Linked DNA regions of Homo sapiens. The protein of the gene in region 3 interacts with the protein of the main gene of each other region in a pairwise test. Each region holds a gene or a part of one and is shown on either strand. Other genes may lie near its edges.

Region 1 (7,818 bases), on a different chromosome or scaffold from region 3:
ACACCTTTGGTTTTGCTGCTCAAGGTCATTACTTCCTCAGGAAGACCTGGTTCTACCCCTTACTTGTGACTGAGCATGTCATGTTACTTCTCTGCTGTGCCTCAGCCTCTCCATCCAGAACCACCTCACAGGGACTTTGCGGGAACTAGACAAGCCAATGTTTGTGGAGCATTTAGCACTTGGAGAAAGCCCCAGAAAGGGGGCTGTTATGCTAGGGCATCCCTGAGCCTTGGGAGAATGCCCTTCTCGCTGTTCCTTTGCAAACTGGGCATTCTTAGCCACTCGGATGGGCAAACTTCAAGAGGGGCCATCTGAGCTAAATAAACCGATCCTCTCTGCATCATTGTGAGCCCTGGGAACCACGTGAGTGGCCCAGTGAGTTGGAGGTGGGGCTGGGGTCAAGGACATGAAAGAAACATCAAGCGACTGAGCACCTACTGTGTGCCAGGCTTCCTGCATGTTACCCAAGAGACAGGAACCCTAGTCCCTGTTTTGCAGGTGAGGACACTTTGGTTTAGAAAGAACCTGAGTTCCTGCCTCCAAATGGGAAAGGAGATTTAGACAGCAGAAGACAGCTGCTCAGGGGCCAGCATTAGTGGGTCTGGTCTCAGAGGACCACTGTCCAGGCCTGTGTCTCCAGTGTGGAGTGACAAGCTGGCACCAACCTGGTGGCCAAAGGCTCTACCCTGGAGAACACTCTTTGACTTGCAGGCCCTTTTTATTTCCCTGTTGTCCTCCAGGAGAGCCCAGGTAATGAGCCTTAGGGTGAGCCATGCGGCTGATTGCACCACCCAGGGGATGAGGAGGCCACACCAGGGCTGAGAGGGGACAGACCACACAGCCCCTCCCATCCCAGGCCTATCCTTTCTCGGGGCCCATCAAATCCAGGAACACTTCCCCGCCACTGACCACTGACCCACAGTTTTCTCATTTACTTCCCACATAGGCCCAAGCCATAGAGGAGGAAATTGAGGCTAGGAAAGGGAAATGACTTGCCCAAGGTCAATCCCAGAGTAGGGAGGGCAGGCCCTGCCAGGTGCCAGTCTCAGGGGCCAGGGCGGTGCACTGAAGGCTGCATGTTCACAGGAGATCAGGTTCCACCCGAGGGAGCTCCTGACCAGGCAGCCCTTTCACAGCCACCTGTGAGTTCTCTCAGCTCTGGAGGGTGGGGCTGCAAAAGAACTGCAATGCGCCTCCTGCTGCATAAAGGACAGTTATCCTCCTGGGGTCAGACGTCGAGAGCCCAGGGCGGTGCCTTCCAAACCCAGACCCGCAGCGTGCGGGTCCGCCTGAGGGGTGTGAGGGGTGTCTGCTCTCTGCTGCTGAGGAGGCCCCACTGTCTTCTCCCAGCCCTGGTGTGGCCGCCCCTGTCCCCATCCCCCTGAGGTGACGTGATCAGGCTCTACTAGGGCTCATCTCCCAGGATGGGAAGGGCTGGGGCTGGGCCTGGGCGTCACCGGGCTACCTGTCCTACGAAGTCCAGTGACCTTCGCTGAACCCTGCTGCGAACCTCCCTAACGCCTTCTCTCACCCTCTGCGGAGAGCTCAGGACTCAGTTCAGCCTGATCGAAGCCAAACATCCCCGTCCCTTGGAGCGCTGCGCAAGGGCAGCCCCACAAGGGCCACAGCGCGGTGCACTCTGAGGCCCCCAACCCTCAGGGCCGAGCACTCCCATTGGCTCTGGGTGACGTCAGAGCCGGCCCCGCCTCCAGGTAGGCGCAGGCGGGAAGCACTGCGGCAGCAGGGGAGGGGGCTGTGGCGGCTCCTCTCGGTCGGTCCGTCTCCCCTCGCCTGTGACCTTGAGCACTGGAGGGGAGTGGGGCTTTGAGCCGGGCTTTGCGCCGGTGTGGGAGTTGGTGCTGGTGGTGCTGTGGTTCGGCCTGTCAGCCGCATCAATAATTCAGGGGACAGGGTCTGCATGGGCGGGCAGGTGCTGACGTCGTCACCTCCGTGCGTGCGGGGTGACCTATCGTCTGCGGAACCGGCAGGGCAGGCGTGTGGGGCCCGGGGGTGGGGGTGAGTCTGCCCCTGCCTCTCCCTCCTGAGGAAGAATGGGGCCGGGGTACCTGATGCCCCGGCGAGAGGAGGTGCCCTGGGCTCCACCTGGGGTCCCCTAGCCCTGCCAGCTTCACGGCTCCAGCGTTGCCTTCCCCCACCTACAAAATAAGGCAGGCAGGCAACCCCTCCTCGTTCCTCCCCAGCAGGGACCCCTGCCTGAAAGGCTGTCATTCCTGTGTGGCCCAGACCTCCTTGCCTCTGCCCGGCTGGCGCAGCAGAGCCCTGGGAACTGTGAGGTGGCTCCTAAGGAAGAGGCCGCCTGTCCTTCCCATCACACTGGCGCAGCCATCCAAACAAGCTAGACGGCCGCCCACTGGGACGGCAGCCCCTGCACGCACAGACCCGGCACGCACACTGGGCACACAGCCTCGGGGGCTCACCAAGGACACCCCCGCCCCCTGGCCTGATGGCCCCAGGCATCACCAAGGCAGACACCATCCAAGCGCACACCAGAGGGCACACGGTCAGAGGGACATGCAGGCACTAGCGCCCGGGTCCACACGGGCAATGCAGCCAAGTCAGACAGTGCCTTCCACGTTCCATTTCCTGCAGATATGTCACCCACCCCCCAACCACACGCTCCCCCCAGCCCCTGCTATGGGCTCTGACTAGCAGCTGCCCCCAGCCACTCCTGCAAACAGGATCACCAGGGAACCTGGAGCACTCTGGCCGTGTCTCAGTGACCCCAGGGTGAGGCTATTTGAAGGCCGGGCTGCCACCAGATGTGGGTTGAGGGGGGCACTTCCTCCCTGCGGTGGGTCATAAGGATGCACCATCCTCCCGGCCCACCTTGATGCCCGCAGCGCCCTCACTCACCCCATCCCAGCACTCCGGCATCTTGCCGAGGGAGGGAACCCGCCTCTACCAGGAAGGACAAACAAAGGCCTGAGTCACTCGGGTCCAGAGGGCGGGGGCAGCTCGAGTGGGAGATGGTCGGCTCTGTGATGGGGCACAGCTCCTGGGCCATTTATACAGGGATCCTGGCCCAGCCTAGCTAGCCCCTCCTCCCCGCAGGGTTTCTGAGCAGCCACTCGCTTACCAGGAGCCCCAGCTCCCATATTGGCTGCTGGGAGACAAGCCTGGCTCCAATTGGCTTCTGAAGTCCTCCTTGCCCCAGCCCTGTCACTGCTCCTCCCACCCCAGCCACACATCATCCTTGATGGTCCCCAGCCCCTGCATCCGCCCCCAGCACATAGGCACACGCCAACAGCTGCAGCTCACACGGGATCCTCCGAATACAAAAGCCGAGACCACACGTACAGACTCACCCATGTCAGGTACACACAGGGTCGTCACAGACATGCACAGCTTACCAATGCGGGGCAGGGCAGGGTGCATGGGCACTGCCCAGACAGCTAGAGCCCTTGACCCACACCTTGGGGAGTATGGAGGGCCCGAGAGGGCCCCAAGCCCAACATCTTGGGGACCAGACCCCCACGCCCAGCCTTCCCATTAGGAAGGTTCCATCGCTTAACCTTGTGGAGGCCTGGGGAGCTGCTGCTTTCTGGGGCAACTTGGGTTATCACCCTGCTTCAAGGGGCTGCTCCTTCTCCACCCACCAGGGATGAAAATCCCACCTTGCCCACGCAGATACAGGGGGTTTCCCCACATGCTGAAAATGGAGTTTGGGGGCCGGGGGCCAGGGGCCCTGGGCAGATAGCAGGGCCAGGGGTATGGTCAGGCACACACCAGCTCTGCCCTCCCCACCCTCACCCTGCTGCCAGGGGCTCCAGACCACCAGGGAGAGGAAGCGGGGCTAGGAGGCAGCTTGCTGACATTGACATGCCCACCTCCTGTAGACCCACCCGGCCCTCGTTCCCAGAGGCAACCAGTTTGGGGCTTGGCTCTCGGGTCTCTGGGGAGCAGAACACTAGGTCTATCTCAGGCTCCGTGCCCTGTTCTCCTGGGCAGCAAGGATCTGGGTGGCGAGCTCGCCCGAGGCCTGCAGGTGGAGTGAGCAGAGGAGAAGAAAGGCCAAGAAGTGCACAGGAGGAGAGGAAATAGGCCAGAGAGGGAAGCAGAGGAGGGGGCCCAAGGCTGGGAGAGCAGGAGCCACAGAGAGAAGGGGGCTGCTGCGTGCCTATGCTCCCAAATCCATGAAGATTATATGTATTATCGTTGCAACTGCCTGTGCAGTAGGCACTGCTGTTTCTCCCATTTATATATGGAGGCTCAGAGAGGTTGACTGACTTGCCCAAGGTCACACAGCAAAGAAGTGGCAGACCTATGAGTGGGATCAGGGTTTGGCTGGCAAGACCTGACCCTGCCTTGTCTGGCCACGATAACTGCACAACTGCCAGAAAAGGGGCCAACAGTTTGGAGAGGCACACAGACTGCCCCATTTCTCTCCTGCCAGGGCCTGGGCAAGGGTGGGGTCAGGGCACAGAGCCTGAGATAGCCCTAGTGTCCTGCTCCCCAGATACCCGAGAGCCAAGCCCCAAACTGGTTGCCTCCAGGAACAAGGGCCGGGTGGGTCTACAGGAGGTGGGCATGTCAACGTCAGTAGCTGCCTCCTATCCGGCTTCCTCTCCCTGTCTTGCTGAAGAAGGAACACGCCACTCACCCCAGCCCATGCTGATGGCCCTGCATGCTGACTGGCTGCCCTTGGAGAAAGTGGTCATCTCTTCATCTCTGGGTACCTGCTGACCTGGTCGACACCTGCTATGTACACTATTGCTGGTCATGTCCTCTGCCTGGGGGCACCTATTCCATCTCTCACCTCTTACTCTGGAGGCCTAGGGAAGACTGACAGGCCCTGTGCTCCCCAGGGCAGCAGGAAGTAGAATGGGGAGTCCCCCTGGCCCGTCACCTCCTGGCCATGCTCCCCATTCCTGCAGGCACTGTGGCACAGGAAGAGGCTTGGAAAACTGAGGCACAGCCCTGCCCTCTGCCCACAATGCCCTCCCATGTCCCCCAAGGCCCCACCCAATCCTACGCCCACTCCAACCTCTGACCCCTGAGTGGCCTCTCCCCACCTTTGGACCCAGGTGACAAGCTGACCTGCGACACTGCCCACTCCAAGCCACAGCCTCCATGACTGCTCAGCTGTCTGCAAACCCACAGACGTGGGTTTAAGTCCTTCCTGGCCCCCTACCAGCCGGGTGACCTTGGGCAAGATTTTTTTTTTAACCTCTCTGTGTCTCAGGCTTCTAATTGTAAAGCAGGGACTGTGTGCCTTTCTCACCAAGCTGCTGTGAGAATCAGAAAAAACTGCAGAAATCACTCTAGATCTGACCCCACCCCTGCCCAGGTCCTGGCAGGGGAGAAATGAGGCAGCCTGTGTGCCTCTCCAAATTGTTGGCCCTTTTTCTGGTGGTTGTGCAGTTACAGTGGCCAGACAAGGCAGGCTCAGGTCTTGCCAGCCAAACCCAGGTCTTGCCAGCCAAACCCTGGTGCCACTCATAGCTCTGCCACTTCTTTGCTGTGTGACCTTGGGGAAGTCAATCAACCTCTCTGAGCCTCCGTATGTAAATGGGAGAAACAGCAGTGCCTACTGCACAGGCAGCTGCAAGGATAATACATATAATCCTCATGGACCTATGAGAAGGGATGAGGAAACTGAGAGTTGGAGAGGTTAGGTAATTTCCTCACTTGGCTAGTAAGCAGCGGCAGCTACTAGTACCCCAGCACTCTGGGTGGGCCTGAGGTCTCAGAATCAAGAGTGGCAAACACTATGTTCAAATGTCCTCCATGTGCCAGGCTTTCTTGGAGTGCTTTACCCATTCTCTCTATCCCTCTTTTTTTTTCTTCTTCTTCTTTTTTTGGAGACATGGTCTTGCTCTGTTGCCCAGGCTGGAGTGCAATGGTGCAATCTCTGCTCACTGCAACCTCCGCCTCCCGGGTTCAAGCCATTCTCCTGCCTCAGCCTCCCAAGTAGCTGGGACTACCAGCGCCTGCCACCACACCTGGCTAATTATTGTATTTTTAGTAGAGATGGGGTTTCACTATATTGGCAAGGCTGGCCTCAAACTCCTGACCTCAAGTGATGCACCTGCCTCAGCCTCCGAAAGTGCTGAGATTACAGGTATGAGTCACCACACCCAGCCTTTATCCTCTTTTTGGAAAATATTTTTAAGTATGGAAGGCTTCACGAATATGTGGGTCATTCTTGTACAGGGGTCGTGCTCATCTTCTCTGTATCATTCCAATTTTGGTATATGTGCTGCTGGGGCGAGCACTCATTTTCTCTCTTAATACCCTCTTTACAAATGAGGCAAATAAAGCACAGGGAGGTTTGGTAACCTGCCTAACATCACACAGCTAGTGGGCACAGAGCCAGGAACCACACCCAGGCAGTTTGGTGCTAACTCCACACTCTGGTGGCCACTCGTCACGGTCAGCTGAGTGTCCATATGAGGGGCCCATGGGCACCATCGCCTTAGAAACACTCGGGAGGTCCGTGCTGCCTGTCTCCCTGAAAATGCGGTAGACAAATGGAGTGACTTGGGCTGGAGGTCACATGCTTGGAAGTGGCGGGGCCAGAACCTAGGTCTGTCTGGCTCATGTTAGTCCCTCTGCTATACTACCTCCCCCACTGGCTGCCCCCACGGAGGCAGGGGACAGTGACAACGCCTGCCATAGTGAGCAGGAGATAAAATCCCTGCCAGGTCTTGGCCCAGATAACGACCATCCATTCTTGTGGCTGCTTTTCTAAAACAAAAAACGAAAAAAATGCTGCCTCCATGTGGTGTGACAGGAGTGGACAGGAAGGTGCCTTTTAATGCAACCTGCCTTTTACCAAGCAGAGGATCCTGAGAACCGGGGTCCCACACACCCTGGGCCCCGCAACTCCGGGGCTGCAGCTCAGAGGGCTCAGGGGCCAGAGGCAGCTTCGCAGCAGCAGTTGGGAACCCAGAGGTATGGTAGGGTCTCCTCCACGACTCCAGGATTCCCCTCTGCCTGTCCCCCACACCGTGGGCCTGTGTGCTGGGGCTGGCATCAGCACTGTTGGCGTCGGCCTCCCACACTGTGGGACCAGTGTGTTGAGGCACCGGCTGGCTGCTCTGAGATTTTACTTGGCCAACCCCCTCCTCCAGGGCCCATTTGCCTGCATAGCTCATCCTCATTTGCAGCATGGAGGACAAAGAAAATCCCCTGGTGAGCCTGCCCTGATCTCCGGCTGTCCCTTCCCACCAGCCTGGGCCAGCTCCCGACCACTTCCCTCCCATCCCACCTCCTGGGCTCCCATTCACTCCCCACTGCCGGAACCCTAGCCTCTCCTTCCAGCTCCAGAGCCCTTTGTGCTTGGAGATGGCATTCCCGGAGGATCTGAGCACATGTACATTGGCTGCCCTGAAGTCTCCCCTCTCGTCCTTGAAGTGGCGCGTGACCGAGGGACCAGCACACAGGCCCAGATTCTCACACTGATCCTCGCGTTGCTCCCACTGGGGGACGAGCCAAAGGGCAGCCCCGCCTCCGTGTCACCCCTGCATCCAGACCACTTGGCTGGTGCTGTCACGGGGCTTGGAGGCTGACCCAAAACCAGGTCAGGCCCAGGCAAGGACAGAGACTCGGGAGCTGCTTCCACCTTACCAGGAGGAAGGGTCTGAATTGGTTCAGCATGTCGGGATGGCCAGTGGGGCCCCAGAACCCAGCAGGGTTCCCTTGTGTCTGCTGTCAGGCATTTTCCCAGACCCGGAAATCAATGGTCACTGTGGGACTCAGAGGGGAGAAACGACTGGCCGAGTGAGCAACATCATCACCCGGAGGAATAAAAACAAAGGGCGCTTTCAGTTTCCACGGAGAACCTGGCATCAACTA
Region 2 (5,514 bases), on a different chromosome or scaffold from region 3:
GCTGGGATTACAGGCGTGAGCCTGATTTTTATTCTGAAAGCCAAGGCTAGGGCTCAAAGAAACTTCCAGAAATATAAAGATGTTTTGTTTTGTTTTTCAGTTAGATAATTAGATACATTACAGCAGAGAAATGGGGAAATTATTTGATACTTTTTAAAAAGCATATCTAAAATGACTAACATTAATGTATAGGTAAAATTTCATAAAAATTAATGATCACTATAATTGTTCCTAATCTCTGTTTTCTATACTAGGAAAAACACAATTTATATATGAATTTTTGCTATATGTAGACAGAATTGTTCCTAATCTCTGCTTTTTATAATAGGAAAAACACGATTTATATATGAATTATTTGCTATATGTAGAGAGAATATAATACCTCTTTTACCAAACATGAAGCCCTAGCCTTGATTTCTGTGGTACATTAAAAAAATATACTTTGCATTGCCAAAAGAGACATAGTATTGGGTTTTGATCCGTATTTTCTGTTGCTCATTCATTACATTGGTGTAAAAGAAGGAAAATCTTAAAAGACATGGAAAGCAGCTCCCTTATAGAGAGCTATCAAAAGAGCGTCCCAAGAGTGTCCTGACCACACTTTTCTTCCCAGATCATGGGCCCCAGCATCTCCGAGCACACACTGTCTTCCACAGGATCTTCTGACAAGTCTGCTTCACCCTAGGAATCCCCATGATCAATATGAGAGAATGAAGAGAAGGATAGGCTGCCATGAGTGTCTCCCAGATGAAGACACTGGTGAGATCAGGAGGATAAGTCTTGGAGGTGATGGAGAAGGGGCTGGCCATGATATAAACCAGGTGAAGTAAGAGGAAGCAGCCCAAGGACTTCAGCGCAGTGATGTGAGCCTTGGCCCGGACATCCCTCCTACCAGCTGAATGGACCTTCATCTTCTTGTGGTGTGTATACAAAGAGACAATCAGCATCCCAGAGGAAACAAGAAACACCACTAAAGGCAAATAACTTCCTGAATTGAGCTGAAATGCATACAGGTACTGCCAGCTTTCAAAGGGATACCGAATGCTGCTGTTTCCTTGGGGAGGATGATAGAATGTTAAGCCAATTTGGACTGTAAGTAACAAATTGATTATAAAGTAGCCCAGAAGGCACCAGAGACTCAGGTTATAGGCCCTCTGCTTCAGCCACAAGTAGGCCGGGCGATCGAAGGTCGTGATCTTCTTGCAATAGAAGACACTGAGGAAGGTGGCAAACCATAAGCTGGCCTGGCTTACCAGGACCCAGAAGATACTAAGATAGCGAAGCCAACGGCTGCTCTGGAAAAGTGGAAACAAGCTTAAGTCCAAAATGATCAGCCACTGCAGGAGAAATCGGCAGCCAGCCAGGCCCAGGATAATGAGGTTATATGAGGACCAGTTGAATTTTCTGATCCATTCTCTAAAACTCCAGACCACCAGGCTTCCATTTCCAATTAAACCGATGAGAAATTCAACCACTGCCACCAGCATCAGCAGTCCTAGGCCAGCGCTCAGCATGGCTGGGGAGAGGAGGCTCTCACTGCTCCTGGCTGAGGTCAGATCCCCTGGTAGTGATAACACACCAGGGTAAATTTTCACACCACAAAATCTGGATTTGGCCTCGTCCTTCCGTAATCTGTCTTCAAGCGAGACTGAACAGCTGTGATGAGGAACAGAGAGGTTGGAAGTTATGATACCATCTGTATTTGCATCTACATGAATGAACCCTGAGTGTAGAACCAGAGATTGCAAACAGTACCACAGACACCGGCTCTCCATCTCAAAGGTTTTGGGCCAAAGTCTAGACACCAGGGTATAACGTAACAAGGCCCCTCAACAAGAAAGACCAAATCAAAACATGCTCAGGTGCTATACAGTGCCAGTTATGAGCTCATATGCTATATAAAAAAAGAAATTTTATTTTCATGAAAAGAACACTGGGCCAGGCATGGTGGCTCACACCTGTAATCCCAACACTTTGAGAGGCCAAGGCGGGTGGATCACCTGAAGCCAGGAGTTCGAGACCACCCTGGCCAACATGGTGAAGCCCCATCTCTACTAAAAATACAAAAATTATCTGGGCGTGGTGGTGGCTGCCTGTAGTCCCAGCTACTCGGGAGGCTGAGGCAGGAGAACCACTTGAACCCAGGAGATGGAAGCTGCAGTGGGCCAAGATCGCGCCACTGCACTCCAGCCTGGGCGACAGAGCAAGACTCCATCTCAAAAAAAAAAAGTAAGCATGCTGAGAACTCTCTACGAAGCTGTAGGCAGGCAGGCCACTGCCCGTCTCTGGGCCTCAGTTGCTCTATTAATAACTGAATGGATTGTAGGATGAGATTTCCATTCCTTCGGACTAAATTTACAAAGTGCTTATTTTGTGTCAAACTACGGTGTACTAGGCACAGGGGACGGCGCCATTATAATACACAGTCCCTGCCTCCAGGTAGCATCCATTGTACATCATCTCCACCAAGCTGCAAGGCCTGGTACTCTAAAACTCTGGCTGTAGGCTATGGAGGGGCAGAGGTGGTCGCGATCTTCTACTGGACTAAAAATCTAGATGAGGCTTGAACTCGTCCAAAAACAGTGTTTCTTCAGTGACTTTCTGATAGAGACATAGTGCCTCTCTCTCCCCACCTGCCCCAATCTAGCCTGGCAGTGGAATTTGCCACCGATCCTGGTAGCCAACTGACACGTTTCCAGAAAGCTAGTCTGGCATCAAAAAAACCAAAGTATCCAGAAATATAAAGGTAGGTTTTTGACTACTTTACTACCGGTGTTGAGAGGCTAAACTACATAGAAAATTGAGATAATAATTTAGCTAATTCCCCTAAGAAAAGTGCTTGCCTAAAAAATATACAGGCTCACCTCTTTTTAAAATATATTATTTTCAAACTATAGCTATTTTCTACTTCCTTTTATCAAAAACATAGCATATTGGCAAAGAAAACTTGATTATCTGCAGTAATTTTTAAAAATGTGATACTTCCCATGCAAAATATGAAAACTCGGTTTTGACTTCTGTAGTTTATTAAAATGATGTGATTTGCATTGCTTAGAGAGCAATAAGCTCCAGTTTCTAGCCTGTTTTTCATGTTACCCTTTCATTTTGTTTCAAAATCAAAGAAGAAATGAGGAGAATTGAGAATAAAAATTTCATTTTTCTAAAATCTACAGTTATTTTTACTGTTGTCAGTGATACAGTTAAGGGCCTGATTAGATCCTTCTTCCAAGTCATGGCCTCTAGGATTTCCATGTACATATCATCTCCTACAGAATTCTCTGACAAGTCTGATTCCTCATAACCATTACAATAGACGGAAATGAAGTATAAACAGCCATGAGTGTTGCAGAGATGGCAAGAATGGTGAGATCAGAGGGAGATTAGAAGGTCATGGAAAAGTGTCTGGCCAAGGCAGAAACCATGTAAAGGGGGAAGTTCAGAGCGATGAGCACCTTGGTTTGAGCCTCCTCCTGACAGCTGTGTGGTCCTCCATCTTCCTGTGATGTCTTTACAAAAAGACAAGTGGAACAGAAACATCACAAATAGCAATCAGTCTCCTTCACTGGACAGCAATCTATAAAAATAACAGATTTAAAATGGGATGCAGGATGTTGCTGTTTCCTGTTAAGGGTTTTTAAAGGGTCCAGCCAACAAGAGCTGAGAAATAAAAAGTGATCTTGAAAGACACTAGCAAAAAACAAAAACCCAGTCTTTTCAGCTACAAGAAGTCAGCGGGACAAAGGTCATGATCTCCATGCAGCAGAAGCCACTGAAGAAAGTGGCAAACTACATGTTGGCCTGGCTTACCAGGACTCGAAGACATTAAGATAGTAAAGCCAACCACTGCTCTGGGAAAGTGGAAACAGACTTATGTCCAACATGATCGGCCTGAGTAGGAGAAAGTGGCTACTTACCAGAATCATGAGAATTTATAGGGACTCCTTACATTTTTTTGACCCATCCTCTAAAACTGCAGACCACAGGGACTCCATTTCCAACCAGGCCAATGAGAAATTCAGCCCCTGCAATGGGCATCAGCAATCCTAGGGCAGCCGCCAACATGGCTGGGGAGGGGAGGGTCTCTCTGCTGAATCAGGAGGTGCCCTGCTTCAGTGCTGATGAACACGTACTGCTGCTGGCTGTGTCAGAATCCCTGGGGACGGTATCAGTATTATGGCAGAGCATTTCACTTCTCACCACTCAGTTTTGTTACTGTCTGAAATCCCTTCTCTGGTAAAGATGTTACAGCTGTGACCAGAAGAAACGTTCTTGAAGGTAACGGTCCCACCGTCACTTACATCTACCTGACACTGGCCTGGGATCTGACATTAGGTACAGAGACACAATTACAGAATGGCCTTCCGAAGGAAAGAACTAAAATCCAGACAGCCTAGAGCACAGTCTCCTGAAATCCTACTTCCACCCGACCTAACTCCACAAAACCTAAGTAAGACAGTCTGAGAATTTAACAGTGGCAAATGCAAGGTACCTCATGTTATAAAAAGGGAAAGCATGGGCCGGGCGCGGTGGCTCACGCCTATAATCCCAGCACTTCGGGAGGCCGAGGCGGGTGGATCACTTGAGGTTAGAAATTCGAGACCAGCCTGGCCAACATGGTGAAACCCCATCTCTACTGAAAATACAAAAATTAGCCGGGCATGGTGGCACACACCTGTAGTCCCAGCTACTCAGGAGGCTGAGGCAGGAGAATCACTTGAACCCGAGAGGTGGAGATTGCAGTGAGCCGAGATCATGCCATTGCACTCTAGTCTGGGCAACAGAGAGAGACTCCGTCTCAAAAAAAAAAAAAAAAAAAAAAAAAGGGAAAGCATGACATTTATCAATTATTTAACCAATATTTATTAATGACTACTATGTGCCAGTCCACTGTTCCAAGCTCTTGGGATACAATGGAAAGAAACAAAGTTGCTGCTCTCATGCAGCTTATGTTCTGGTGGGTGAGGCAAATAATTAATGGTTTCAATATGTTTGAAATTTGAATATATAAACATGAGAGCCATATTTACACCTATGCAAAGGCTTACTGCAATGACAATGAAAACAAAGGGAAGGATAGGGTGAGCAAACAAGCAAAAACAAGGAGAAGACAGGATAAATATCAACTGCTGAATAATAAATTCTAGGAGAGGTGAGGCAGGAGAGAAATCTGTGAACCACGGCTGCTACTTCATCTCCACACAGAACTGTTCAGCCTATCGGCATCCACACCAAGAGCTGCAATGAAGGGGTGTATGTGGAGAGTAACAGCCTCAGTGCCATCCTCTTTACCAGAGTAACACTATGGTTTTTAATTTTGACACAACCAAAATGTGTCTGCCATAATACTACCATAATTCTTTCTACCAAAGTCTCTTGCATTCATGCTCCTATTCCCCACTGTTCTGAGCCCTCAGCTACTTTAGCAGTACCTGAACCAAGAAAAGAAAGCTGATGAAACATCAAGCGGGATGCAAGCATCCAAAGAGACGCTCATAGGGGCAAGTTATGGCTTTA
Region 3 (7,093 bases):
GTTCTTTTACATTCACACTTGGTCAGGGAAGGAGGAAGCTGTTGTTCCACTTCTCATAACTGGACTCAGTGAAAGCAAAACACTTCTTTTTGCCAAATTATGAAAACAAACTCATAAAATGTCTGTAAATTCATGACTGCTGGAAGCTGTGCTAGCATATTGTTTTTGGAAATTAGAGTAGCTAAAATGGTACCTGGATGGAATTTGTAGGCAATGCGCTCACAGGCAGTCTGACTGGCAGTTATTCACAAAGGTCCCTTTCACTCTGTGATGTGGAGAGAAGAGGGGCTCTTGCCAAGAATAATACTAAGAATTGTTCAGAAAAACAGGATTGGTAACCAGAAGAAGGTAAGAAAGAAATACTGCTTCATTTCCACACTTTAAAATTAGATACTATTCATACCTTTCTTGTCCCCAGAATCCTTTATAAAAAACATAAAACCTATACTTTCAGAAAGAAGTCCATTGAAACTAAAGACTTAAGGTGTATTTATGAAGATGAGGTATCAATCACAAAATTCAACGTGAGGCTATAATTAGATACTGCCATGCAAATTTTATAACTACCTAGGAGAGGTAGGAGAAATAGAACTAGTCACACCTTTATGGTTTGCATTAAAGGAATAAAGGTTTTAAAAAGCACTCTCTTCTAGTGACCTCTTAAAGAGATTTTAAGAGCGCCTAATTCAACTTACCACACAAAATAGCAATTTCCCCACAGAATCCTCCAGTTCTACCAGCCCCCAAACCATGAAAAATATGAGACAATCAAATCAGTACCAATATTTTAAAGGAGGCTCTGACCTAATCAGTAAACACTAAGCTGAAACAGCCTGCAAGATGAAGTTAGTCGGCAACAAAACATTTCCTAGGAATTCAAGACTCTGGAAGTGCCATACAATGATGTTATAAACAGAAATCTCACTCAGAAAGAGGAAACTGACCAACTGACCAAAGTATTTTAAAACAAGAACGAAGCACCTATTCTTTTTAAATTAGATCCAACAGATGCCTCAGCATAACACATTAAAGCCCTTCTCACAGTATCCAACACAGACGTTCACCATTTTAGGTTAAAAACAAGCTCAGCATTTATGTTTGCAAACTTTACTAGTCGTCCACTGTTGAGGGTCAGCCCACTGCTTCGTGATGATTTTCGAGACAATAATATCTGCATCATCCCACTGTCAACACTCCACCCCTCAAGAGTCTGCAGGGAGAGAAAGTGTCTGCCTCTTAAGCACCAATTGTTCATAAAGGCTTGTTGACAGTCTATGGAAATAAAGCTTTAAATAACGAGGGTCAGCTACCTATGAGTCAGACCTTTCTTAGGCCCGGTCTGAGGTTCCACTTGAGATTCATAATAGAGGCTAGAAATCAAGAAAAAAAAACCCGTGAAATTACTCTGAGCCTTGACCAATTAATAAAGGCAACAAATTAAAAAGAACCCACCAACTTGTTTTGAAATATCAAAAAGTTAAATTTCAGTGACTCCAACATTCGATCCCATAGAATTACTCCCTCAAGGTGAAGATTCAGAGAGCAATCTTACATTCGGAGATGTCATGCTAAGTCCCAGTATCACACAAAACAAAACCGAATAAAATCAGCAACCACAAACGTGGGTGAAAGCAGCTTGCTGAGAAAGAAGAACTTGCTGAGAAACCAGAAGAAACACTGATTAGTTTCCAGTTGGCCATATCATCTTAACATCCTCATTTCACAGATGGGGAACGGAGGCTAAAGAATACACCAAAAAGCGAAGAGAAACGTTATTTTGTCATCCAAAAAGGAAAACAAAAGCTAAAAGCACCCTAAATAGAAATGCAGCATTCTGTGTGGTTCTACAACATAGGACATTAGTGGCCAGGTTTCAGCACGATCAAAACTTTTCTAATAGGCCGGGCGCGGTGGCTCATGCCTGTAATCCCAGCACTTTGGGAGGCAGAGGTGGGCGGATCACTTGAGGTCAGGAGTTCGAGACCAGCCCGGCCAAGATGGTGAAACCTCGTCTCTAGTAAAAATACAAAAATTAGCCGGGTTTGATGGCGGGTGTCTGTAATCCCAGCTACTTGGGAGGCTGAGGTGGGAGAATCGCTTGAACCCAGGAGGCAGAGGCTGCAGTGAGCCAAGATCGCGCCACTGCACTCCAGCCTGGGCGACAGAGTGAGACTCTGTCTCAGAAAAAAAGAAAAAAAAGCTTTTCTAATAAAACAAACCAACACGCAGGCAGTCTCCTGAGGCGCTGGGTGTCTAGAGACTAGTTGTGGGCAGTGTGGACAGAGACACAAGATGTGGTCCCTGTCCTCATGGGATGGGGGCAGTTTCTCACCCCCAATCACAAGGCAATGTGTACAGGGGCGGGTGGGAGTGTCACACCCTACAACCTAAACCGGACAGAAAACCAAGGCAGAGCTCGGGGCGCGGCCACCAGCCCCGTCGCGAGGTAGGGACCGCCACCCCAACACCCCAGTCCGGGTCTGGGGCCCCGACCCACCCAGCAAAGGCTCCTTCCGCCTGGACCTCGGGGCCCCCAGCCCTACCCGGCCCTAAAGCGCATTCCCCGGCCGGTGGGGCCGGGGCCGACAGCCCAGTCGCCCACCCTCCCACTCGCAGCTCAGTCCGGGGATTTCCTCCTGCGCCGCCCCCTTGTCAGGGAGGATGGGCTGAAGGGGCGCGGGGCAGAAAAGGACGCCGCGGCCACTGCCCCGTGTAGTGCCAGACCTCTTCGCGGAGCCCTGCAGAAGAAGAGGAGGAGAAGGGGCAGAGCTACCGTCCAGAAACTCCAGGGAGTCCCCGCAGGCTTCCCAGGCCCGGGCAGGGGACGCAGGGCGGGAGCGCGGCGAGAGGGGGCCGACGGCCCCGGGCTCACTCACCTCGGACAGGCCGCTCCGGTCCTCCGTGTCCTGCCCGCTCAGCACCTTCTTCAGCTTGTCCATTGCGGCCCAGTCCCCACCAGCTCCAGCTCCTCAGCGGCAGCCTGTTGCGCTCGCTAAGTTGACGGCTCTTCCGGGTGCTAGGCAGCCGCCCAGCCGCCCAGGCGCCAACCGCGGCGCGCCCCGCCCAGGCACCTGCCCACCGGGGGGCTCCCGGCATGCCCCGCGCGCCCGCGCTCGCCTCCGCTTGTTTTGGTCCCGGGGGGCGCGGCGGGCCGGAGGGGCTGGGATTGAAGACCACCAGGCGCTGCCAAACACTAATTCGGCGTCCAGAGCAGTTTCAAACCGGAACGGGCCGCGCTCCCTCGCCCTACTTGATCCAGTCAACGAATGCCGAGCACCTACCACGTGCAAGGCTCCGGAGACACAAAGACGGGGGAGAAGCCTTGTGCAGACGGGAACAAAGGCTGTGGTTCATCCATATTGCGATCGTGCCTACACAGGAAAAGATTTTCTTTTTAATCACTCAAGGCCTTAGTCTGGTGTGGTGGGGCGTGCCTGGAAGCCCAGCTACTCCGGAGGCTGAGGCAGGAGGCTCACTTGAGCCAAGGAGTTCCAGGCTGTAATGAGCTATGACCAGGATACTGCACTCCAGCATGGGCAACAGAGCGAGACTCTGTCTCAAAAAAAAAAAAAAAAAAAGTGACTGAAGGAATGTTGAAAGGAATAATAGATTGTTAAATTGTTTTGTGTTTGTACAATTGTTTTTTTTTCTGACCTTAAAAAAACTAAAAGTAGACTGGGCATGGTGGCTCATGTCTGTATTCCCAGCACTTTGGGAAGATGGCTTGAGCCCGGGAGTTCCAGACCAGCCTGGGCAACATAGGGAGACCTCATCTCTTCAAAACATTCTTAAAAATTAGCCAGGCATGCTGGCGGGCATCTGTAATCCAAGCTACTTGCGAGGCTGAGGAGGAAGAATGGCTTGGACTCAGGAGGTCAAGGCTGCAGTAAGCCATGATTGTCAGTACAGTAAGCCACTGCACTCTAGCTTGGGCAACAGAGTGGAAACAATACAAATGGCCACCAACTGATTAATGGTAAATAAAATGTGACATACCCATGCAATAAAAAAGAATGGAGTACTGACACATGCTACAACGTGGATGAACCTCGAAAACATTGTATTAAGTGAAAGAAGTGTGGAGCCCGAAAATTTGAGACAGGTCTCAGTTAACCAGGAAGTTTATTTTGCCAAGGTTGAGGAACAGCACCTGTGACACAGACTCAGGAAGTCCTGACGACATGTGCCCAAGGTCGTTGGGGCATAGCTTGGTGTTATACATTTTAGGGAGACATGAGGCATCCGTCAATATGTGTAAGAAGTACATTGGTTGTGTTTGGAAAGGCGGGACAACTCGAAGCAAAGGCAGGAAGACTCAAGGGGGGAGGGGGCTTCCAAGTCACAGATAGGTGAGAGACAAATGGTTGCACTCCTTTGAGTTTTTGATTAGCCTTTCCAAAGGAGGCAATCAGATGTGCATTTATCTCAGTGAACACAGTGATAACTTTGAATAGAATGAGAGGCAGATTTGTTCTAAGCAGTTCCCAGCTTGAATTTTCCCTTTAGTAATTTGGGGGGGCCCAAGATATTTCCCTTTCACAGAAGCTAGACACAATAGACCATATATTGTATGATTTCATTTATAGGAAATGTCCAGAATAGGCAAACCCATAGAAACAGAAAGTAGACTAATGGTTGCCTAGGGATGGAGGAGGGGAAATGGTAGTAAGAGACTAATGGGGTGATTTAAATGTTCTGGAATTAGATTGTGGTAATGGTTGCATGCACAGCTCTGAACATACTAAAAACCATTGAATTGTATGCTTTGAATTAACTGTATGGCATATGAATTCTATTGCAATAAAGCCATTTCAAAAATGCTTAGAACAGTGCTCAGTATATATTTCACAATCCATTAATATTATCTATTGTAAAATGTAACAGGCATCCACTCTTATCTTTCTCCAATGTGTCTGAGTCTGAACCCAGAATATGGGCTCCTGATTTACCTACATTTATATTTGCACATTGTGCAATTGGCCCATTACAAGGTGATTCATTGTAGCATTGTTTGTAATAGAAAAAAATTGGAAACAACTTAAAAGTTCATAAATGAGGGAAGTGCTTAAATAAATTATGGTACATTCATTCACAAGAATACTAAGTAGTCATTAAACACAGAAGAATGAGGAAGGTTTAATCAATGTCTTCAGAAGGTTTTTTCTGACTGTGCCACACCATCCCTTGAAGGATCTTTGTAAACATAAGTCTGACTCATTTGTTGCCCTGCTTAACATCTCCCACAGTGTGGTAAACTGAAAAATGTTCCCCAAAAGATACCCATGTCCTAATCTCTGGAAAGTGTACATGTTACCTTAGACAGTGAAAAGTGGAGTGGGGGTGGTATTTTGTGCAGGTAATTAAGGATCTTAAAATAGATTATGCACAATTATCCAGGTGAGCCATAAATGCAATCATGTATATCCTTATAAGAGGGAAGCAGAGGGAGATTTGACACCAACAGAAGAGGAGAAGGCACTGTGACCACAGAGGCAGAGATGGGAGTGATGCAGCCACAAGCCAAGGAATGCCAGTAGCCACTAGAAGCTGGAAGAGGCAAGGAAAGGATTCTCCCCTAGAGCCTCCAGAGGGAGCATAGTCCTGCCAATAGCTTGTTTTCAGCATTTCTGGCCTCCAGAACTGTGAGAGAATCCATTTCTGTTGCCACCAAATTTCTGATATGTAACAGCAGCTGCAGGAAACTAATGCCCATGTTCCCTACCACCTACAGATAAATTGCTGCTGACTTCTCAGCAACACATACCTTCCTCTTTGGGTTCATCTCTCTCCTTTCTCTCACATACTCCAGGCTCCAGGCATAGGAGACTGTAGTTCCTGAACTCATTGTGTTCCCTACCTTGTCCTGGAAAACACCTACTCTTTTCCATCCTTGTCCCTTTCCCTTCCCCTAACACACAGTTCTCTCAAGTCACCTTATTCTTACCTCCACCATAACACTTAGCACAATATGCTCCATTTGTTCACATTAGGGTCCCTATGGGGCATAGATCTTATTTGTCTTTCCATCCCCAGTGCCAAGCACAGTGCCTGGAACGTATAGTAGGTGCTAAATAAATAGTAACCTACTCTAGTCATTGGCCAGGCGCGGTGGCTCATGCCTGTAATCCCAGCAGTTTGGGAGGCTGAGGCAGGTGGATCAGGAGGTCAGGAGTTTGAGACCAGCCTGTCCAACATGGTGAAACCCTGTCTCTACTAAAAATACAAAAAAATTAGCCGGGCATGGTGGCAGTCGCCTATAATCCCAGATACTCTGGAGGCTGAGGCAGGAGAATCACTTGAACCTGGGAGGCAGAGTTGCAGTGAGCCGAGATCGCCCCATTGCCCTCCAGCCTGGGCAACAAGAGCGAAACTCCGTCTCAAATAAATGAATAAATAAATAACCTACTCTAGTCACTGGTCACATTCTCATTCCCCACTGTGCAATGCAGATGCAAACAAGTCCTCAAGGCTGAGTGATGTACTCCCTCACAGCCTTTCTGTACCTCTGTTTTGCCAGGATGAACAAACAGGAAGCTTTAGATGAAATTTTATGTGCGCTCTATTAAATTTCACCCTCCTCTCAGCAAAAGCTAAACACAAAAAAAGTTCTTACAAAGTCTCTTAGAAGTGTGTGTGCAAGGAAGCTCTAAGGAGTTAGCTTCCAAGGAATAGGAAGTAAGGCAGTTCTCTGAGCATTATTAATGCATGAAATTAACACAGAATTCATCAGGGTGGACATATTCCTACTTGGTTATTAAGAAAAAGCCCTTAGAAAATCATGATTGAATACCTTAATGTATCTAGAATAGGAAAAGGAGAAGGAAAGGAAGGCCATTCCTCAAACTGGTTAATCCTAGGGGCTAGGAAAAGGAGACTCCTAAGGCAGTGTTGGCAAAGCCCATTTAAGCACAGCACAGGTCAGACATAGTTCTGGTGTCTGAGTCCCACATGAAGCAGGTTTATCCTTATCACAATTGTAAGAGCCTAGGCCACCATGCAAATCCTGAACTTTCTTCCTTTTTTTTTTTTTTTGAGATGGAGTCTCATTCTGTCACCCAGGCTGGAGTGCAGTGGCACGATCTCGGCTCACTCC
Region 4 (5,440 bases), on a different chromosome or scaffold from region 3:
GCCTCTGTGGTTTTTGTTTGTTTTTTGTTTTGTTTGAGACGGAGTCTTATTCTGTCACCAGGCTGGAGTGCAGTGGCACGATCTTGGCTCACTGCAATCTCTGCCTCCCACGTTCAAGCAATTCCCCTGCCTCAGCCTCCCAAGTAGCTGGGACTACAGGCACGCGCCACCATGCCTGGTTAATTTTTGTATTTTTAGTAGAGATGGGGTTTCACCATGTTGGCCAGGATGGTCTTGATCTCCTGACCTCGTGATCTGCCCGCCTCGGCCTCCCAAAGTGCTGGGATTACAGGCATGAGCCACTGCGCCCAGCCTAGGCCTCTGGTTTTATCTTGAGTCCCAAAACCATTTTCCCAGACTGAGCCCCCTCAAGCCCATCTCTTAGCTGGGCACCAGAGCTCCTGTCAGTCACAGGCTGGCCTCCCCACTCCCCCAGCTGAACCCTGCTTCTCACTTGAGGTCCTTCCCACCTGTCAGCTGGTGTGGCAAGAACAAAGCACAGAGGCCAAAATAAATGAGGTGCCAGAGTTTGGTTTATTGGCTCATCCAGTGCCAAAGGTCCAATGGGCACCCTCTTCCCAAGGAACCGGGAGCCCCGCGGCTCCTGCATTTCTCTTTCTCCTTCACGTGTTCCTCCTGGCCCTGACTGAAGCCGTGGCAGAAGCTGGGGCGGGTGTGAGCAGAGGCTGGGTTCTGCCAGGGGTCTTAGGGCCCAGTCTGCTTGGTACAGGATGGGGACCCTGGGCAAGAGGGGATGGACCCCAGGGGCAGAGGAGAGGGGCCCACTCAGCAGGGGCCTGTACCAGACAGAGCAGGGGTGGGCCCTGAGGAGCACGGGAGTCCAGCCCAGGGGCACGGTGGCAATGGGGTGACCTAAAAGGGAGCAAGGTCATAGGAGCAGGTGAGAGGCCCCCCAGATCCCCGTTCTCTCATGGGCTGGGTCCTCTGAGGCTCAGAGCCTAGGATGGAGGGTTGAGCAGGGAAAGGGCCAGATGACTGTGGGGCTCAGGGTGGGAGGAGGCGACTGCTGGAGGGACAGTCCTTGACCCAAACTACCCCGAGCCCTAGACCCAGAAAGACACACTCACACAGCCCTGGACCCCCCTTTTTAATGTGGGAACATGTGGCACTCAGCCCCACCCAATGACCAGGAAAAGAGCCCCCAGCTGCAGCTCTGGCCTGGCCATCCTGGTCGCTGAAGCACAGGCCAATCCCTGTCTTCCATCCACAGCTGCACCTGGAGGCCCCACCCAGGGTCCCCAACGTCCTCCCCGTGTGCTCCCTTTCCCCCATGTGCCTTCAGGCCCGTCCTTGGTCCATCTGGGCTAGGACTTCCCCCTCCCTGCTCCCAAACCAAGGCGAGCAGTGGAAACACGACAGGACCTCTGAGAAGCGGATTGCTATGGGCTTCAGCAAGGCACTGGGTGGGTGGGGCAGGGCGGGGCTGCAGCGGAACAGCGGTGGAGGCCGAGCAGTCCCCACCTCCTTGGGTGGCTCAGTCCTCAGCCTCTGGTCCACCCTCTACCCTCAACCCCCACAGCTGGGCCTCCTTCCTCTTTTCCAAGCCCCTTCCAGAAGAGTGGCCACTGGGCAGGCACCGGAAATGGCCATCTGCGGGGCCCAGGGGCCTGAGACACCTAGGCTACTGGCACAGTGTGGAGCAGGGGCTGGGTCTGAGGCCCCTCCTGAGGCTTCATCCTTGCTCTGCAGCCTGCGGGGGTGGAGGGGCTCAAGCTGAGTCGCCCCCGCCAGAGGTCTTCTTCTTGGGCCGGGTCTTCAGTGTCTTGGAAGCCAGTGGCTGTGGAAAGAAGGAGGAAGATGGGGCTCAGCCTGGAGCCGCCACCCCCTGCCTGTTTCCCCAAGCTCTGGCCAGTGCCCTCACCTCAGCTTTGGGCGCTTTTTTGATGGGTTTGGCCCTCTTGGGAGCTTTGTCTCCCATGTCATCCTCAGAAGCCTCTGTCCGGGAATCTGCCGGGTTTGTGCTGGACCTTAGACTCAGGGCAGGGTCATCTCCTGGGTGCAGGGAGAAAAGGAGGTGGGGGAATCTTTCCCATCTGGACTCCTTGCCCTTGGGGCCCCACCCCAACCCCGGGCCCTGCCTGTACCTAAGTCCTCGATGGTGTCCAGGAGGCTGCCAGGGCTGGGTCGGAGGCGGCCGTCAGGCCTCTGCAGGGGCAGTGCGTCCTCGTCCCGGATCAGGGTCAGGTCCTGCATGCTGAAGCTGCGGAGCTTCTCTGACAGCACCCCCTGGCCCTAGGGTCACCACCACGCACCGGGAGAGCCGGGGGGAAGGGGCGGGGTGGAGATAGAGGTCACCATGGTGCTGGCAGCAGCCCCAGGCTCGGTGCCCTCCCCACACTGTCCTCACCCAGTCCCACACAGACAGAGCTGAGGGCTGGGGCAGGGCCACACTTTGCCTCTGGGGACAGATGGGGAAATGGCCGGACAATCAAAGTGACTCGGCCAGATAGCAGTAGAGCCTGGACTGGAGCCTCCAGCTGCATGAGCCCAGAGTCTCTACAGCCCCGAGTACAGGGTGGATGCAAAGGGGCCTGGCCAGGGCCCTTTGTACAAGGTAGGGGCCCTGGGAGTCTGAGCCTGCCCCCATCTCACCTTGGCGGCAGCTGTGACTGCAGCATTGGCGGCAAGGTTCAGGCCCCTCTTGCCCACCCTCATCATGGTCTCATAGCTCTTGTCTCGGGCCTGCGTGATGTACTCGTCGATCTCCTATGGGATTGGAGGGGAAGGGAGAAGAGGAGAGGTCCTGCCCTACCCTTGTTCACCCCTGGACAGAGGCCCCTGCCTGCTCCGGGAGGCCACGGCAGCCCTGCCAAGTCACTTTGGGCTCTGGGCCCCACAGGGAGGGCCAGTCTGTATGAGGCTGCAGGCTCTGGACTGCCTTGGCTGGGGGCAGGCTGGGAGGTGAGCTGAGAGTGGGGGCAAACCTTCTCCTTGTTGGACAGCGTTGGGTGCACGAACTTGCGGTAGAGCACGCTGGAGCCCTTGGTGTAAGGGGACAGCAGCCATATCACGAAGGCGATCTTCAGTTCAAAGTAGAAGGGGAACCTGTTGGGACAGGGGCAAGCGCAGAGTACAGGGCAGGGAGTTGGGAGGTGCCCTGTGTCCAGCAGCACCGGCCCCATGTGTGACCCTGCACAGCCCCTCACTCTTAGTGCACTGGGGTCCCCATGGGGCTCATGGGACTGCTCCTTTCTAATCTGAAAGGGTCTGGAGGGCTCAGCTGAAGCTCCAAACAGGAAGGTAAGCAGTGACACTAGAAGGAATTTCCCCCAGCAGCGACTCTCCTGGCCTCATCCTCTCCCCAAGCCCCAGCCCTCTCACTCCTAGAGAAAACCCCCCTTCCTCTGCCCTAGGGTCAACACCAAGGGAAACTCTTGACTGTGCAGGCCTACACCTGGGTCTTCACTCCTTCCCTTTCTGCCCTCCCTATCATCGAGAGGCCTGGGACTTCTCTAGCTTGCTCTGGACCCTCCTGCCCCACCGTGACACGACCCTCACTTCTCCAGGATTGCCCTTCAGTCCCCATAGTGCCTTCTCCTCTGGTCACAAACTCCTTCAGGTCACCTATGTCCTCACAAAGTCTTCATCAAAGCTCTCTCTTTTGCTGTGTCAAGACACATGTATAGGCCTGGCACAGTGGCCTGTAATCTCCCAGCACTTTGGGAGCCAAGGTGGGAGGATCATCTGAGCCCAGGAGTTCAAGACCAGCCTGACAACACAGCAAAACCCCATCTCTACAAAAAATAAAAAATAAGCCAGGTGTGGTGGCGTGTGCCTGTGGTCCCAGCTACTCAGGAGGTTGAGGTGGGAGGATCACTTGAGCCCAGGAGGTAGAGGCTGCAGTGAGCCGAGATCACACCACTGCACTCCAACCTGAATGACAGAGTGAGATTCTATCTCAGAAAAAGAAAAAAAAGGCATCTATATTTACTACCCTCAGTTTTGTTTTTCACCTCACCACCCTTGCCCTACTCTCATCTTTTTTTTTTTTTTTTTTTTGAGACAGAGTCTCGTTCTTGTTGCCCAGGCCGGAGTGCAATGGCACAATCTTGGCTCACTGCAACCTCTGCCTCCTGGGTTCAAGCAATTCTTCTGCCTCAGCCTCCTGAGTAGTTGGGATTACAGGCATGTGCCACCACGCCCGGCTAATTTTGTATTTTTAGTAGATAAGGGGTTTCACCATGTTGGTCAGGCTGGTCTCGAACTCCTGACCTCAGGTGATCTGCCCCCCCTTGGCCTCCCAAAGTGCTGTGATTATGGGCATGAGCCACCGCACCTGGCCAATTTTTTTTTTAATAGGCAGGTCTTGCTATGTTGCCCAGGCTGATCTCAAACTCCTAGGCTCAAGTGATCCTCCTGCCTTGGCTTCCCAAAGTGCCAGGATTACAAGCAGGAGCCACCATGCCCGGCCTTTACCCTCAATTTTTTTTTTTTTGAGACTGAGTCTTGCTCTGTTGCCAGGCTGGAGTGCAGTGGCACGATCTCGGCTCACGGCAACCTCCGCCTCCTGGGTTCAAGCGATTCTCCTGTCTCAGCCTCCCAAGTAGCTGGGATTACAAGTAGGTGCCATAATACCTAGCTATTTTTTTTTTTTTTTTTGAGACAGAATCTCACCCTGTTGCCCAGACTGGAGTGCAGTGGCTCGATCTCGACTCACTGCAAGCTCCGCCTCCTGGGTTCACACCGTTCTCCTGCCTCAGCCTCCAGAGTAGCTGGGACTACAGACACCCGCCACCACGCCCGGCTAATTTTTTGTGTTTTGTTTTTTAGTAGAGATGGGGTTTCACCGTATTGGACAGGATGCTCTCCATCTCCTGACTTCATGATCCGCCCACCTCGGCCTCCCAAAGTGCTGGGATTACAGGTGTGAGCCACTGCGCCCTGCCATGCCTAGCTAATTTTTGTATTTTTAGTAGAGACGGGGTTTCACCGTGTTGGCCAGGATGGTCTCGATCTCCTGACCTCGTGATCTGCCTGCCTTGGCCTCCCAAAGTGCTGGGATTACAGGCGTGAGCCACCACACCCGGCCTTTACCCTCAATTTTTAACCCATCTCTCCATCTCTTTCCTCTTCTAAAACTATTTTTCTCAAATGCAAGGGTCTTATCTATAAATGTAATGATCTCTTGTCCTCTCCCCCTTGGTAAAATTCTCTTCTTGAGTTCCGATGAACTGTGTTATTAGTCCCCTCTTCCAAGAGGTATCTGATCATTCAGTAAACATTTTTGAGTTCCTGCTGTGAATATACAGATGATTAAGACATATTCCCTGTCCTCAAAGTGCTCATACATACGTAGTCTAGTACAGCCTGGAAAATGCCTTGGAAATGCAAGTATCCAGCATTTATAGGAGTGAATCATATGCCTATTTTACAAATAAGGAAACTGAGGCCTCGAGAGCTGTGACCTGCCTAAGGTCGC

What was found.
Region 1: the proteins of SFT2D2 (region 3) and NDRG4 interact in binary tests that used the Homo sapiens proteins (3 or more experiments, as listed by UniProt).
Region 2: the proteins of SFT2D2 (region 3) and TAS2R5 interact in binary tests that used the Homo sapiens proteins (3 or more experiments, as listed by UniProt).
Region 4: the proteins of SFT2D2 (region 3) and REEP2 interact in binary tests that used the Homo sapiens proteins (3 or more experiments, as listed by UniProt).

Annotation. Positions count from the first base shown.
Region 1 is NC_000016.10:58,495,326-58,503,143, reverse strand, and holds the start of NDRG4 (protein NDRG4), read right to left. Parts: upstream 3,002-7,818; 5' UTR 2,896-3,001; coding exon 2,875-2,895; intron 2,157-2,874; coding exon of another isoform or gene 2,067-2,156; intron 1-2,066. UniProt on the Homo sapiens protein: Contributes to the maintenance of intracerebral BDNF levels within the normal range, which is necessary for the preservation of spatial learning and the resistance to neuronal cell death caused by ischemic stress.
Region 2 is NC_000007.14:141,786,362-141,791,875, reverse strand, and holds TAS2R5 (taste receptor type 2 member 5), read right to left. Parts: upstream 1,660-5,514; 5' UTR 1,515-1,659; coding exon 615-1,514; 3' UTR 509-614; downstream 1-508.
Region 3 is NC_000001.11:168,221,926-168,229,018, reverse strand, and holds the start of SFT2D2 (vesicle transport protein SFT2B), read right to left. Parts: upstream 3,016-7,093; 5' UTR 2,940-3,015; coding exon 2,877-2,939; intron 1-2,876. UniProt on the Homo sapiens protein: May be involved in fusion of retrograde transport vesicles derived from an endocytic compartment with the Golgi complex.
Region 4 is NC_000005.10:138,442,041-138,447,480, reverse strand, and holds the end of REEP2 (receptor expression-enhancing protein 2), read right to left. Parts: intron 3,067-5,440; coding exon 2,946-3,066; intron 2,728-2,945; coding exon 2,614-2,727; intron 2,254-2,613; coding exon 2,106-2,253; intron 2,014-2,105; coding exon 1,883-2,013; intron 1,799-1,882; coding exon 1,730-1,798; 3' UTR 516-1,729; downstream 1-515. UniProt on the Homo sapiens protein: Required for endoplasmic reticulum (ER) network formation, shaping and remodeling. May enhance the cell surface expression of odorant receptors.